Regions from separate parts of the Homo sapiens genome. Here region 1 is linked to region 2. Evidence: fine-mapped expression QTL. A gene starts in region 2. The other region holds a variant in brackets. All regions are shown on one strand. Distances are from middle to middle.

The links. PIP is the estimated chance that this variant, and not a neighbour inherited with it, causes the effect.
Region 1: its variant is fine-mapped to the expression of FRAT2 in whole blood (TOPMed, PIP 0.95).

What each region holds. Positions count from the first base shown.
Region 1 is chr10:97,366,754-97,375,073 of GRCh38, reverse strand. It overlaps RRP12 (ribosomal RNA processing 12 homolog), which reads left to right. Exons shown (of 34, transcript NM_015179.4): 16 at 1,180-1,244; 17 at 1,337-1,499; 18 at 1,874-2,028; 19 at 2,271-2,338; 20 at 2,908-3,001; 21 at 3,993-4,151; 22 at 4,278-4,358; 23 at 4,514-4,619; 24 at 4,800-4,907; 25 at 5,492-5,649; 26 at 7,942-8,033; 27 at 8,165-8,320. Among named protein-coding and RNA genes, the nearest start is that of RRP12, 30 kb to the left of the region's middle. The variant T/C (reference allele first, on the strand shown) is at 3,944.
Region 2 is chr10:97,330,157-97,338,476 of GRCh38, reverse strand. FRAT2 (FRAT regulator of Wnt signaling pathway 2) reads left to right here and starts at 3,748. Exons shown (of 1, transcript NM_012083.3): 1 at 3,748-5,980. The coding sequence starts at 3,905. The coding sequence ends at 4,606. It overlaps LOC105378448 (a long non-coding RNA gene), which reads right to left and starts at 3,631. Exons shown (of 2, transcript NR_188201.1): 1 at 3,506-3,631. RefSeq lists enhancers at 1,074-1,592, 4,130-5,037 and silencers at 3,180-3,529, 3,660-3,809, 3,900-4,049, 4,390-4,519, 4,530-4,579.

The DNA of each region.
Region 1 (8,320 bases), 37 kb before region 2:
TAGGTAGGGACAGACAAGTTTAGCAGATGGTGAGTCGAACAGACACGGTTTATATCCCAACTCCGCCGCTCCACAGTTCGTGGCTTGGGGCAGGTTTTGTTTAATTTCCCAGGGTCTGCTCCTCATCTTAAAATGGGCAAGTTTTGTGAGGATTAAATGAAAAAGTCATGTGAAGTGCTCATTACAGACTACCACATAGTACTTGCTCAGTAAATGTTACCAGCTTTATTGTCAAGTAAACAAGGTTACAGAATGCTATATATATAGTATATTCCTCCCTATGGTTTTTTTTTTTTTTTTTTGAGACAGAGTCTCGCTCCGTCACCCAGGCTGTTGTGCAATAGCACGATCTCGGCTCACTGCAAGCTCCACCTCCCGGGTTCACTCCATTCTCCTGCCTCAGCCTCCCGAGTAGCTGGGACTACAGGTGCCTGCCACCACTCCCGGCTAATTTTTTGTATTTTTAGTAGAGACGGGGTTTCACCATGTTAGCCAGGATGGTCTCAATCTCCTGACCTCATGATCTGCCCGCCTCAGCCTCCCAAAGTGCTGGGATTACAGGTGTGAGCCACTGCACCCAGCCCCTGTTTATGTTTTACAAAGTGGGCATGTGGCTGGGTGCAGTGTTGCACACCTGTAATCCCAGCACTTTGGGAGGCCGAGGCACATGGATCGCTCAAACTTAGGAATTCGAGACCAGTCTGGGCAACATGGTGAAACCCTACGTCTACAAAAAGTTAGGTGGGTGTGGTGGCATGCACGCCTGTAGTCTGCTTCTTGGGAGGCTGAGGTAGGAGGATCGCGTGAGCCTGGGAGGTCAAGGCTGCAGTGAGCCCAGATTGCGCCACTGTATTCCAGCCTAGGCCACAAAGTGAGACCCTGTCTCAAACAAAACAAACAAACAAAAAAAATTGGGCATGTGTTTAAAGAAGTATAAAAAAGTAACAAGAAACAGAGGCTATCTCTGGGGGAGTAAGAGTATGGAGAGACGTTTGCTTTCTGTTTATTATAGGTTCATTTGAGTATTTTAGAATGAACAAGTATGATTTAATTCATGGAGATGGGGGGAAGTCACCCATATTCCTGTCCTCATCATTGGGCTTTTGGTTTGGTTTGGTAAATAAGGCTGTTGGCCAGGAGGGTGCTGGGCTCACACTCTGTCCCTCTGTCACACTGCAGCCATGGACCTGGCTCAGGCAGGCAGCACAGTGGAATCTAAGATCTACGACACACTCCAGTGGCAGGTAAGGGTCAGCTGGGGGAGGGCGTGGGGAGAAGCACACAGGGGCACAGGTGGCTGCGTGTCACCTTCCTTTATTGTCCCCTCCTTCTCCAGATGTGGACACTCCTGCCTGGGTTCTGCACAAGGCCTACAGATGTGGCCATCTCCTTCAAAGGGCTGGCACGGACGCTGGGCATGGCCATCAGCGAGCGTCCAGACCTGAGGGTCACCGTGTGCCAGGCCCTGCGCACCCTCATCACCAAGGGCTGCCAGGCAGGTACGTGTGGGCTGTGGGAGTGGGGGCTGGGGAGGATGACACAGGTCCCTGGCCCCATCCCCTGGCTTGCTACACTCCTTGCCAGGCAGAGCCACAGAAACTCACCTCTGGAGCTCATCCTTTGCTGCTTCTGCTGCAGACCCCAGGGGATAACTTTGCTGGCTCCCTGGGGTTGGAGCCATCGAGGACCATGGGCCACTGGGGCACCAGGCTCTCCATGCCCTGGCTCAGCTTCTGCCACAGAGAGCCCCAAACCCATGGATTCCAAGTCCTGCCAGCTCCCCCAAGAGAGGGCCTCTGGGCCACAGCCCCAGCAGCCACTGAGGCACAGTCAGCTCCTGTGCCTTTAGTGCAAACTTTGATCCTTTTACCAGAGGCTGACCGTGCTGAAGTGAGTCGCTTTGCCAAGAACTTTCTGCCGATCCTCTTCAACCTGTATGGGCAGCCCGTGGCAGCCGGGGACACTCCAGCCCCTCGCCGGGCTGTGCTGGAAACCATCAGAACTTACCTCACCATCACTGACACTCAGGTGAGCCACGGAAGGGAGGGAAGGAGGGAGGAGGGGAGCTCTCAGGTGGGCAGGGTCAGAGAGGCCGAGACCCTACCCACCAGGGCTCACGTGGGTCTCTGTGTTTTGGAGCACATACCAGCAGTCATGGCTTGGGCAGGGCTGGGGGCTGATGGGGAGGCCGCTCTGGGACTGCTGCCATTGCTGCTTTCTTTCGCTCCTCCCCAATGACTCTCTTCTCCTCATTCCCTCGGGGCCACAAGTTGGTGAACAGTCTCCTGGAAAAAGCCAGTGAGAAGGTGCTCGACCCTGCCAGCTCTGACTTTACCAGGTAACATGCTCAGGGCCTCCCACTTGAGCTGGAGCAGCCCAGGGAGCTGGAGGGTGCATCTGGCAGAAGCACTGTGGGTTCCCTCTTGCATTATTTAAGGAAGCCTTGAAGTATTAACTCTCCAGGCTGTGCTGAGAGGCTGTGCTGACTAGTTCCTTCTTCCTGGAGAGGCCATTTAGTCTGGTAGGGAGGAACAAGGACCCAGGAGATACACTGCCCAGGTTCTGATCCCAGCCCCGTCACTCATGGGCTGTGTGACCTTGGACAAATTACTTATCCATTCTGCCTCTAAGGCCTCATCTGTAAAATGGGCACGATAATAGTTCTTGCAACAAGGTTGCTATGAGGATTGAAGGAGTTAGCAGGTGTAAAACACCAGGAACGGTGACTGGTACATCATGAATGCTCAGTTAGGTACTAGCTATTATTATTGTTCATGAGCTCCTTCAAGCCCCTTGTCCTCACCCTGACTTCTCCCACCTCCCCATACCCAGTAGACGTAAGAACACTGGTAGTCTGCGCCCTTCTCCAGCTCCCCATCCCTCTCCTTGTCCTCCTGCCCCGAGCAGATTGTCTGTCCTGGACCTGGTCGTGGCCTTGGCTCCGTGTGCTGACGAAGCTGCCATCAGTAAGCTATACTCCACCATCCGGCCCTACCTAGAGGTGAGCCTCGGGGGCCAGGAGCGCCACACAGCCACGCTTGGGGGCAGATGGGCTGTGGGAAGGTGGGGCCTGTCTTCATGTCTTTGTCCCTTGCTGCTTCCCGAGATCAGGTCCCTGTCTGCTTTCTCCTGCAGTGGCTTCTCTTTGTGTCCTGTGTAGCCCATCTGTCTTGCAGGTCCCAAAGGGACTGAAATGCACAGCTGTGCTTAGGCCTTGCGTGCTGAGTGACTCTTGTAGAACCAAGGCCATGCTCCTTTGCCTGGCTCACTCCCCAGGCCCATCCCAGACCGGCCTGAGCTTTATCCCACCCAGTCCACTCTCTACTTCTGCTGCAGCCTCCTTCAGCTGCCTTAAGCCTCCCTGATATAACAGGCCCTGTCTGTGCCTTTGCAGGGTTTGGGTCCTCAGCTTGAAATGCCCTCTGCTGTGGCCAGCAACCCTGCAGATCTCAGCCCAGCAGTGACCCCCTGAAAGCTGCCCCCATTGCCACAGTTTAGTAGCAGTTACCTAACAGTGTGAGAAGTGCTCTGGGGCAGCACTGCAGGTGGACATGGAAATCCAGGGCCAGGCCACGTCACCTCAGGAAAGGTGTCCGGCGTTGGGGGTTGGGGGAGTGTGACAGAGAGCTGGTTTGGAGGAGCAAGGAGTTGTCAGTCTTGGAAGGAGAGAGAAGAGTGCTCCGGCTAGAAAGAGCAGCAGATGTGCAGGCCTTGGCGCGTGCCAGGCACCATGAGCTCAGGCCACTGGAGTGAGCACTGTCCAGAGCTGGGTGAGTGGAGTGGATTGGTGGGCCCCACGGCACACACCCCCAACCCCTGTGCCTCGCCCAGGAGTTAGCCACTCGCTGTCCACATTCCACTGGTCCTCTGTCAAGCCACATGAGCCCCCACGGACCCCTGCTCAGAATCCCTCCAGTGCTGGGGGATGCTCCGTGGATAGCAT[T/C]GGACAGGGAGTGAGCCCCAGGCCTCCCTCACCGGTTCCTGTCTGCCAGAGCAAGGCCCACGGGGTGCAGAAGAAGGCCTACCGAGTGCTGGAGGAGGTGTGTGCCAGTCCTCAGGGCCCCGGGGCCCTCTTCGTGCAGAGCCACCTGGAGGACCTGAAGAAGACACTGCTGGACTCGCTGCGGAGCACCTCCTCACCCGCCAAGAGGGTGAGGGCTCTAGGGCCACCCGCTCTGCCGAGGGAGCCTGGGCAACACCAGGAAAGGAGCCACTGTTGAGGCTTGTTGGGTGGAGGTAGCATTGAGGGGTCCTGACTGGTAGCCCTTTGCCCACAGCCCCGTTTGAAGTGCCTCCTACACATCGTGAGGAAGCTCTCAGCTGAACACAAGGAGTTCATCACTGCCCTCATCCCAGAGGTGAGTGTGCGGGTGTGTTTTAGAGGGGGGTCCCTGGAATGTGGCTCTTAAGGGCCTCAGGATCCAGGGAGGGCAGTGATGGGAGTGGGAGGACTCGATTCGCTTCCCGGGCAGATGGCTCAGGGAGCAGATGCTGATGGAGTTGTCTTGGCCAGGTGATCCTGTGCACCAAGGAGGTGTCGGTGGGCGCACGGAAGAACGCTTTTGCACTGCTCGTGGAGATGGGCCATGCTTTCCTAAGGTTTGGCTCGAACCAGGAAGGTGAGGCCCAGGGGGCTGGGGGTGGACACTCTGCTCATAGACTGGGTGGGGGGAAGCACCCCTCAAAAAAGGTGGGGAGAGCTCTGTGCCCTGGCCCTGGGCAGGCTGCTCCTCTCTGGCCCTCAGCCCCCCTACCTGGTGGGTCCTTCCTGCTTGACCCACGTTGGTCTCTGTCCCCAGAGGCCCTGCAGTGCTACCTCGTCCTGATCTACCCTGGCCTGGTGGGCGCGGTGACCATGGTCAGCTGCAGCATCCTGGCCCTGACCCACCTCCTTTTCGAGTTTAAAGGTAAATGCTTATTTCCTAGAAGGCCTGAGAAGCCCTCAGATTAGGAAGATGCCCAAAAGGTCAGGATAAAGTGGCTCCTGGAACTGGGAAAAGGTGCCTGGAGGAAGTAAGAAAAGCCACACCCAGCCCAGTTTGCCTCCCTGTCTCCCTTCCTGCGGGTCGCTGCCTCCCGCCCTTGCGGCTATGCCAAGGCACCTTCCTCAGGTCTGTCCCCACGTGTGACTGTGCAGTCCAGTGGCCCTGCATCCCATTGTCAGAGTGGTTAGGAGGTGGTTAGGGCTGATGCCTGGATTTTAGTCCTAGTCCTGCCTCTTGGCAACCACATGAGACCTAGAACAGCTTGATTAGCCTCTTAGCACCTCAGTTTCTTATCTCTAAAATGGAAGCAAGAAATAGCACCCACCTCAGGGTGACGAAAGGACCCAAGACCACTCCATGGAGCGTGATTGGAACCATCCCGGGCATACGGAAAGGCTCTCAATGTCAGCTTTTACTGACACTTGAGTGGCTGTTTTCCAGTGGGGAAGGTTTGGGTCTGAGTGGGGTCCTGGGTGTCTTAGACAGTGACCCCCTCACTGCCACAGGTCTGATGGGGACCAGTACAGTGGAGCAGCTGCTGGAGAATGTGTGCCTGCTTCTGGCCTCCCGCACCCGTGACGTGGTCAAGTCTGCACTGGGCTTCATCAAGGTGGCAGTGACTGTCATGGACGTGGCGCACCTGGCCAAACATGTGCAGCTGGTGGTGAGTGTCCCCGTTCCCCTTAGCAGGTAGCAGGGTGGCCTCTGAGCTGTTGGCATGGACCTGGCAAGCTTCGAGGCCAGCAAGTTTCAAACTATTTTTTTTGTAGCCAGAGGTCATTAAGGAGCCCTAAAAGGGACCATAGGGGAATGCCTGTCAGGTGGAGGCGAGGAGGGGGCACACTGCCCAGGTGGCTTTCTTCACCCCAGAGCCCTACATGGAAAGCAACAGGGGCTCTTCAGGGCAAAGGCCCATGGGCAGGGCCACTCCTCATTTTACAGATGGAGAAACTGGGCCAGAGATTTTCCAGATCATGGGACTCAGACGCTGGGCTCTCCCTCCACAGGACCCCCTCATCTTGCCTTTTTTTTTTTCCCATCTTGCATTTTGACCTTGCTGGTTAGAGGCCATTCCTTTGGGTCCCCTGCTGGGCTGCAGAAGGATCTGAAGAGCCCCTTGGTATAGGGTCCCTGGCCCTCTCCTGCCCAAGAGAAGCCTTGCCCAGGCTGGCGTAGGCTTCCAGCCAAGCTGTGCACTGTACCTACTGCCTCAGTTTCCCATGTGTGACTGGCTTGAGTCACATCAGACCTCTGGGTCCCTCTTGCATATTTTCTTTGGGTCTGGCCTTGGGTTCAAGATAGGAAGGGACAGATGAGAATCAGCATGCCCTCCCGCTGCCCTCGGAGCCTGCAGCCTACTAGGGACCAAAGGTGGGGAGAACAGCTAGAGCAGTGATCCATCATGGAGTTATTCGAATTTATACAAGCCCTGGCCGGCTGCAGTGGCTCACACCTGTAACCCCACCACTTTGGGAGGCCAAGGCAGGCAGATCACTTGAGTTCAGGAGTTTGAGACCAGCCTGGCCAACATGGTGAAACCCCATCTCTACTAAAAATACAAAAATTAGCTGGGCGAGGTGGCAGGTGCCTGCAATCCCAGCTACTCGGGAGGCTGAGGCAGGAGAATCACTTGAACCTGGGAGGCGGATGTTGCAGTGAGCCAAGATTGCACCACTACACTCCAGCCTGGGTAACAGAGCAAGACTCTGTCTCAAAAAAAAGGGATTTATAGAAGCCCTTCCAAGAGTGGTTGGGGAGGCCAGGAGCGGTGGCTCACACCTATATTCCTAGCACTTTGGGATGCCAAGGTGGGTGGATCACTTGAGGTCAGGAATTCGAGACCAGCCTGGCCAACATGGTGAAGCCCCATCTCTACTAAAAAATACAAAAATTAGCCAGGCATGGTGGTGCGCGCCTGTAGTCCCAGCTGTTCATGTGGCTGAGGTGTGAGAATTGCTTGAACCTGGGAGGCGGAGGTTGCAGTGATCCGAGACCATGCCATTGCACTCCAGCCAGGGTGACAGAGCAAGACTCTGTCTCAAAAAAAAAAAAAAAAAAGCCAGGCACAGTGGCTCACACCTGTAATCCCAGTACTTTGGGAGGCCAAGGTGGGCGGATCGCCTGAGGTTGGGAGTTCAAGACCAGCCTGGCCAGTATGGTAAAACCCTGTCTGTACTAAAAATACAAAAATTAGCCAGGCGTGATAGCAGGCACCTGTAATCCCAGCTATTCAGGAAGCTGAGGCAGGAGAATTGCTTGAACCCAGGAGGTGGAGGTTGCAGTGAGCTGAGATCGTGCCATTGCACTCCAGCCTGGGCAACAGAGCGAGACTCCATCTCAAAAAAAAGGAGTAGACGTGGACCCTATCCCCTAGCCGGTTTGGGAGTCACTGGAGATAAGAAGATCTGCCACCTGCACATGTAACCCAAACTGGGCCAGATGAAGGCTTAAGAGGAATCCAGCCAGAGCAGAATGCAGTGAGATGGAAGGGACATAGGGGACCAAGAGAAATCTTGGGGTGCTAGGGGCAAAGCGGGAGCCGCAGCATTAGATGAGTCTGGGCTGAACTCCCACCTCTATGGCCATTTAGCAAACACTTTATCCTCTGTGCCGCCGTGTCCTCTTCTATAAATAGGGGGTGATAGCATGTATCTCAGGGGTAGTCCAAGGATTCAAGGAGAGGATATATGTCAAGTACCAAGTGCTGTTGAGAAGACTAAAGCTCTCATCCTGCGAGGGTGCTCAGGCCTGTGTCCTGAAGGAGGGTGCAGGGGAAAGATGGGGCCTGCCCACCCGAGGGAAGCATGACTGGGCCAGGGTGTGGGCCAGGAGCAGGGCCGCGCTAACCCTCCCCTCAGCTGGGCTTGATCATGCTGCGTCCCTGGGCTGGACAGCAGTAAAGGGGGCGCAGCATGGAAGGCTCGCCTCCCTGAAAGCCTGGTGCTCTGTCCGGCAGATGGAAGCCATTGGGAAGCTTTCAGATGACATGCGGCGGCACTTCCGCATGAAGCTTCGGAACCTGTTCACCAAGTTCATCCGCAAGTTTGGGTCTGTGCACTGAGCAGGGGCGGGGGTAGGGCAAGCGAGGGGCCGAGGATTTCCAGTCCTACCAGGGACACTACATCTGGGTCGTGCTGTCTGGCCAGTGCCTCTCACCAGCCCTTCCTTGCCACCTCCAGATTTGAGCTGGTGAAAAGGCTGTTGCCCGAGGAGTACCACAGAGTCCTGGTCAACATCCGGAAAGCTGAGGCCCGGGCCAAGAGGCACCGAGCCCTGAGCCAGGCTGCCGTGGAGGAGGAAGAAGAGGAGGAGGAGGAGGAGGAGCCCGCCCAGGG
Region 2 (8,320 bases):
TTCATCCCACTGTACTGTAGCTAATGTCTCTGAGGGCAGGTAACTTGAAACAAGGTCTGTGTGGAAAGCAAACTCCTTGCAGAGAATTTCAACGCAATCTAAGTGAATGCAGAAAACCCTTGAATTCTGTTCTTCCCTGGGCGATTGTGAATGCTGTCCGAGAGTGTGTCTTTCCAGGCAGGGAGCCAGTGTGCTGGGCTCACAAGTTCTCATCGCTTCCCTTTTTGATACCGTCTCATTACTTTTAATTGCATCTGAGTCTTTCTAGCATCTTGTATTTTGCTTCCTAATCCAGGGCATTTCTCTGCCTCCCACTGGTCCAGCACAGCACTTCTCTCTCTCAGAGCTCTCCAGAGAGGTGCCCCCAGAAAATGGAGCTGGTCTTCTGTAATGAATTCATCTCTGTAATGAATAGTATAATATCCAAGTCCCAGCATATTTACATAGCAATCTTCACACAAAAGCAACATTACAAAGGGAAGATTTTTTTTTTTTAAAGAATGCCATCTCAAAGCTCCATTTCCTATAGTACGAAGAACACTATTGGAATTACCCTGACAGGAAAACAAAAACAACTTCCAGGGATGCTGGGTGAGAGACAATAGTTAAACCAGACCCATTAATGTTTAAAATCAATGGAGCATAAAACTGCTTTTCTCTACTTACAGCCAGGCATCATCATACAGAAAGGAGGAAAACATTACCATTTTAACTCTACTGAAATCCGTAAGCCCTCCCCTAATTTTCATTCCTCTCGAAATTCTCCAGTAAGTACCATCGGAATGAAAATGAGAATCAGTCTCTCCGGGGGGAATGGCTTCCAGTCCTCATCAGTAAAGTGTGTGAACAGCCCTCGGGAGATGGAGGTGGGAGGCTGCCCACTGGGAAAGTCTCCATCACTCAAACCTGCAGAACTAGTTGCGGAGACTCACTGTGGGGCATGGGAGCCTCCGGGCTGACTTCAGTAAAGCCCTACACAATCCCAGGTCAGGGTAGACCTGAGGCAGAATTTAAGAAACCTGGCAAGTGCACAGAAGTAATACCCTCAGGGTACGTTTCACCTAGTGGGCTGCATGGGGGGGATCTTCAACATTATTATGTTAAATGCTCCCCAGGGGGGACTCGCTGGAATTGAGCCAGACCTCTGTTAGTAAACCGCTGGACCTAATCCTACATTTGTGTAATGCCTGACAACACCCGTTCCCATTATCTTATTTGATCCTGAAAACAATCCTCAGAGGGAGGCCAGGCAGGGATTATTTCTCCTATTTACAAGTGAAAACACTTGTAAACTGATTTGCCTGGAGTCCCACACCCAGGATGTGGCAGGAATGAGACTTGGATCTAGGTCTTTGTACAACCTGTTCTGGGTTCTTTTGACTTCACACAACAGACTGATCAAAACATTCCCAGCCCCACCCACTCCTCACAACCACCAGCTTAACCAGCAACTGGAAACTCACCAGACAGCTTGTGTTTATGCTACCCTCACACCTCTGTCCTAGTGAAGAAACACACCTTTGGCTGGCAAGCTCTCCAGGAAAAAATTAATTTCATGTCATCTCCTTGAAACAAAGACCAACATTAATCCCAGATGGATTTGAAAAAAAAATCAAGGCATTTGAAAAATCTAAAGAAAATAGAATGGAATATTTAATAACTTTCTGGCAGCAAGGAGACTCCAAATTTAGCATCGTGTTAGAAATTTCAAAGAGATTTTAAAATTTGCCTACATGAAAATTTGGTTTTAGTGGGGGAAAAAATGACTGTACAGAGCCAACAAAAGCCTGGAGACGTATTTGCGGCAAAATATGAAAAGGGTTAACATTTGGTATGTAAAGGAGTCATGCAAATACGTAAGAAACACTCCCTAGGAAAATCTTATTAGGAAATAGACAATTCATAAGAAAGGAAGTACAGTTTGTTAACAAACATTTAGAAAACTGCTCTACCTAACTGAAATCAAAGATATGCAAACTGAAGGGAGAAAATTTCCCTATATAATCCGCAAAAAAAAAAAAATTCAATAATACTCAAATACTAGTGAAGGTGTAATGATGTATGCTCAAGCATTAATGATGGTAGAGTACATTTACCTAACTCTTGGAAAGACACTTCCTGAACATTTATCAGTAAACCTTAAAATACCCAACTACTGTGACTTAAAATTCCACTCCTGGGAATATGCCCTAAGGAAAGAATCATCAATATCTTAAAGTGTCGCGCACAAAAATGTTAGTTACACACTTAACGATGGTGAAATTAGGCAAATGTTAAAAACATAGGCACTTGATGGAAACTTATGTAATCATTAAAATGTTTTCAAAGTGCATGCAATAACACGAAAAACGTTTATGATGTAAGGCAAAGTGGAAAAGTGTGTAACACTGTATGCATGTGTTTGTATACTACACTTTCATAGAACAAAGGCTAAAAAGGAAAAAAATTTAAATGTGAACCATGAGAGATTTTTTCCATCCCTTATATTTTTCTTTTTTTTTTTGAGACGGAGTCTCGCTTTGTTGCCCAGGCTGGAGTGCAGTGGCGTGATCTCGGCTCACTGCAACCTCCGCCTCCAGGGTTCAAACCATTCTCCTGCCTCAGTCTCCCGAGTAGCTGGGATTACAGGCGCCCGCCACCACGCCCGGCTAATTTTTGTATTTTTAGCAGAGATGGGGTTTCACCATGTTGGCCAGACTGGTCTGGAACTCCTGACCTCAGGTGATCCGCCCGCCTCGGCCTCCCAAAGTGTTGGGATCACAGGCATGAGCCACCCACCGCTCCTGGCCAATCCCCTATATTTCTATTTGAACCTTAAAAAAAAAAAAAGACCCTTCTTTAGCCGAGCGGCGGTGAGTCCTATTCTCATGATATGTCCGGGGGCTTGAAGACTGCGGGAGGGAAAGCCTCTGGGACCTCACCTCAGAGCGATTCTGCTCTGCTTCAAAGCGTCCCCTCTTAGGCCGGGCGCGGCGGCTGACGCCAGTAACCCCAACACTTTCGGAGGCCGAGGAGCGAGGACTCCTTGAGCCCAAGAGTTCGAGACCAGCCTGGGCAATATAGTGAGACCCCCCCCCCCCACCACCGTCTCTACAAAAAAAATTTTTTTAATTAGCCAGGCGTGGTGGCCGCGCCTGTGGTCCCAGCTGCTCCGGAGGCTTAAAGTGGGATGATTACTTAAGCCAGAGTTCGAGGCTGCAGTCAGCCGTGTTCGCGCCACTATACTTCAGCCTGGGCGACAGAGACCTTTTCTAAATAATAAATAAGTAAATAAGTAACGTGCCGCCTCTTCACTCCCAATTCCCTCCGCCTTTCCCCGCCCCGCCTCGTCGAAGCCGGACCCGCGGCGGCCCGCCCCTCCCCCACGACCAGGGCCGGGAACTGCGGGTGCGCGGGGCGGGAGTCGGGCGGGCTTAGGCGCGGCCGACACGTGGGGAGGGAGGCCGCGGCCCAGGAGGCGGGCCCGGAGTGGGTGTGGGTGTGTCCGTGCGTGGGAGAAACCAACCTCAGCCTCCTCCGAGGCGCCACGTTTCAGCACGGCTCGTTGGGCCCGGGAGGTCGGAAATCAGTCCCCACGCCCCGGACCCCCTCCTGGAGGGACAACGAACACAGGCGCGGGACGGCTTCGGTCACCGCCCGCGCCGCCCTTTGCCCCCGTGCCTGCTCGCGCGTCACCCCCGCCCCGGTGCGGTGGTAGGGCCCGGCGCGACGTCACCCATTGTTTACAAATCAACCCGAGCCGGCAGGATTCCGGCTCCAGCGGCTGCAGGCGCGTGGCTCGAGTGCCTGGCGGGCTCCGGCTTCCGCGTCCGCCCCTGCTCCGGCTTCGCCCGCAGCTCCGCGCCCGCGGGCAACCAAGCCCCCAGCGAAGCCCGCACAGCTCCGGGTGCCAGGACGGGGGGCCATGCCGTGCCGGAGGGAGGAGGAAGAGGAAGCCGGCGAGGAGGCGGAGGGGGAGGAAGAGGAGGACGACAGCTTCCTCCTGCTGCAGCAGTCGGTGACGCTGGGCAGCTCGGGCGAGGTGGACCGGCTGGTGGCCCAGATCGGCGAGACGCTGCAGCTGGACGCGGCGCAGGACAGCCCGGCCTCGCCGTGCGCGCCCCCGGGGGTGCCGCTGCGGGCCCCGGGGCCCCTGGCTGCGGCGGTGCCGGCGGACAAGGCCCGGCCCCCGGCGGTGCCGCTGCTGCTGCCGCCCGCTTCGGCTGAGACGGTGGGCCCGGCGCCCTCTGGGGCCCTGCGCTGCGCCCTAGGGGACCGCGGCCGCGTGCGCGGACGCGCTGCGCCCTACTGCGTGGCGGAGGTCGCCGCAGGCCCCAGCGCGCTGCCGGGGCCGTGCCGGCGAGGATGGCTCAGGGACGCGGTCACCTCCCGCCGCTTGCAGCAGCGCCGATGGACCCAAGCCGGGGCACGCGCCGGCGACGACGACCCGCATCGGCTCCTCCAGCAGCTCGTGCTCTCGGGAAACCTCATCAAGGAAGCCGTGCGGAGACTCCAACGAGCCGTCGCCGCGGTTGCAGCCACGGGCCCCGCAAGCGCCCCTGGGCCCGGGGGAGGCCGCAGCGGACCTGACCGCATTGCCCTGCAGCCCTCAGGCTCCTTGCTCTGACGCAGGCCTCCTGGAGGAGGAAGTGGAGGCCGCTGCGTAGACCCAACAGCGTCCAGTTCCTACTAACTCTGAGCTGAAGCCGACGTCGCCAGCCTGGGAGCGACCACTTTGGCTGCGGGGAGGCGCGTGGGGAGAGATCTCAACCAGAGAAGTTACCAGCCGCGGCGAGGCCGTCGGAGAAAACTTAAGCGTGGAGAAATGTATGCGCCAGGGTGCTTCCGTGGGGCATGAGAATTTCCCGGGCCATCCAAGCCCAAGGACCTGGGATAAACTGGGAGAACTATGGCAGCTACTTGCATCGACTTGTACCTCACTTAGCCCTTGGGGGCGTCGTGAGCTTGGATTGTTTAAGGAGGGCTCAGGGGTAGGAATCGCGATGGCTTTATAACAATACTTGAAAACTAACGACACGCATACATTTTCTTATTTTCTGGTGGAGGAGCTTAGTAAGTGGTGCTACAATTGCTGTGCAAAGAAATTCCAGAGGGGAGAAGAATGTAAAAGTTTGGTGGTGGGTGGCTTGGCATTGCCCCTTTTTCCCACCGATTCGGTGGCTGGTGAAGGTGGGAGATGTGAACTCCAATTAAGGGACTGGAGAGAGGTGAAGAATTTTGCAGGTGGGAGATTTGGATTTGAATGTGGACTTGTAAATGACTTGACCTTGCCATCTGTGTTCAAGGTCACGGTTTGCTGTGGGGTTCCTGGGAGAGCTTACTCACCCCGGAGTCTTTTCTTTCTCTTGCTCCAAGAAGAGCCCTGTTGGTGCTTTACCACCGCTTGGAGTCTCCCGAGGACACAAACAGGCAGAGAGGGACGTGTAGGGAGAGTTCTTTCCTGTTTTCTGTGCTTTCCTTTTTACAGGACTCCCGGAAGGCCACTCATGGCCATGCCAGGAGCTTTCTCAGAAACAGTCATAAACGATCTCTTGAGTCTCTTTCTTGTCCTCCCAGCTGAGCTTTCTTATTCCACCCTTTCTGGTGTCTATAGGAATGCATGAGAGACCCTGGACGTTTTTCTGCTCTCTTCTGGCCCTCCATGGAGTCATGGGCCTCGGCCTCGGCGGCTCCTCACCCTCACAATTTATTTCCTCCTCCCGTGCCAGCCCTTCTTTTGTGTCTGAAACCGGTTTTAAAATGTGACTCTCCCAGAGAAGAAGCCGCTGGCTGTATGAAACTTGACGGCGCTTTTGTAAGGTGCCACCCCCAAACTTTAAGGTAGCTAAACCAATTTTTAAAAGATTCAATGGCTTGTTCATCCTCCAGATGTAGCTATTGATGTACACTTCGCAACGGAGTGTCTGAAATTGTGGTGGTCCTGATTTATAGGATTTCATAATTAAAATGTCTGCTGAATAAATTTGGCTTTTGTTTTGGAGCACGGTTTGGCATTTTGGTGGAAGGTGGGAGAGGGGCAGAAAAGCATATGGGGATGTCCTTAATAAAGAGGGCACTTGGGCTAAACCGGGGGGGGGGGACCTGGACAAATGGTTTGGGCCAATGCTGATGGGCACAGAATCCTAGTAGAGCCACAGGACTTGAGTGCTTCTAAGTTTTTATTCCACAAGATCAGAAAATTGAGTCCAGGTTTTTAGAAGCTGCAAGATGGGCTTCCACTCCCTTTGTGGAAAGACAATGTATTCTAGAAATGCTTTCTGGGCTGGAGAGCAAAGAGGTGCTGTGGTGGAGGGAGGTGGGTTTTCATCTGGACGTTTTTGTGCAAAATGGGGAGGGCACAGGCGAAGCCAGCCTGCTTTCCCCTTTGAGACTGACCTAGTCTTGAGCTATGGCCTTGGGAGAGAAAAACAGGGTTTTACAGCAGTGTATTTGGTAGTTGTAAAATGGCTTGGTTTGAGCACTCAGGGGTTAGATTTGACCGAAGTAGCCCTCCTCCTCTCCTCATTCTCTCTCTGCCCTGTCTTCCCAGGCATAGAGCCCTTGCTGAATCCCTTCCTAGTTCCTGCCTTGCCCTTTTCTCTTTTTAATTTAATTTTATTATTTTGAGATGGTGTCTTACTCTGTAACCCAGGTTGGAGTGCAGTGGCACGATCTTGGCTCACTGCAGCCTCAACCTCCTGGGCTCAAACAGTCCTCTCACCTCAACCTCCTGAGTAGCTGGGACTACAGGCTCATACCACCATGCCAGGCTAATTTTTTATATTTTTAGTAGAGATGGGTTCTCACTGTGTTGCCCAGGCTGGTCTTGAACTCGAGCTCAAGTGATCTGCCCTCCTCGGCCTCCCAAGGTGCTGGGATTAAAGGCGTGAGCCACCACACCTGGCCCCTGCCTTGCCCCTTCCTTGCCCAGCTCTACTAACCCAGCCCCCGGGGAACCTCTCCTGCTCAGCACACTCCCGAGGCTGGGGCTGCAGAGGAAGGCTGATGCTCAGTTGCCTCAGCCCTTTCTGCTCACCAGCTGTGTCATGGTGGGCAAGTCAAGACTCTGAGTTTTTCCCTTGTGATTTGTAAAACAATAGTACTTAATAGGGGAGTTGGAAGGGTTAAATGAGGACTTGAAGGGGAGACTTCATTGCTCAAAAAGTGATAGCTGCTCATTCTTGGTACTACCACATGGCTTTATGTGCCACGAGGTAGGCACTATTTTTCCATCTTATAGATAAGGACTACAGACAATGGGAAAAGACCTACAAGATCTGAGTGTTTCTCTACTTCCTAGGTAGAGATGGAGCTGATCCCTGTTAGGGCAGGCACCCTGGTTGGCACCTTTTACAAGATTTTTTTTTTTTTGAGATGGAATCTCGCTCTGTCGCCTGGCTAGAGTGCAGTGGTGTGATCTCAGCTCACTGCAGCCTCCCTCTCCTGGGTTCAAGTGATTCTCCTGCCTCAGCCTCCCGAGTAACTGGGACTACAGGAGCATGCCACCACACCCAGCTAATTTTTGTATATTTAGTAGAGACGGGGTTTTACCATGTTGGCCAGGATGGTCTCGATCTGACCTTGTGATCCGCCTACCTTGACCTCCCAAAGTGCTGGAATTACAGGCATGAGCCACGGCACCTGGCATTTTTTTTTTTTTAAGACGTGGTCTTGCTCTGTCCCCAGGCTGGAGTGCAGTGGCATGATCTTGGCTCACTGCAGCCTCCACCTCCTGGGTTCAAGCAATTCTCCTGCCTCAGCCTCCCAAGTAGCTGGGATTACAGGTGCCCGCCACCACTCCCAGCTAACTTTTGTATTTTTAGCAGAGATGAGGTTTCACCGTGTTGCCCTGGCTGGTCTCAAATTGCTAACCTCAAGTGATCCACCTGTCTTGGCCTCCCAAAGTGCTGGGATTACAGGTGTGAGCCACCGTGCCTGGCCCTACTTTGCTTTTTACAATGGTGAAAGGAATTATTGGTGGTAGAGCAGAATCAGAACTCAGGGCACTTAAGTTGGTCCTCTTGCCCCCTGTCTGAGCCTACACACAATGCTCTTCTCACACACCCTTGTCACCTGTCTGAGCCTACACACAGTACGCTCTTCTCACCCCAACTCTTGCTACTGATCCAGCCATTTGCAAAGCCTGTGGAGGGCCTGGGCCTGGGGAAGTGTCTCTGTCTACGAGGCAATGGGCATTTCCAAGGTGTTGCAGCTTGGGATAGCCCATTCCTAGTACTCTTAGCTCAGGAATGATTTTGGCTAGGATATCCCTAGCCCCTTGTAGTGGATGGTCACAGAGTTGAGACAGCTTCGTCTTCTGAAGGGGCCATTGCCCATGTTT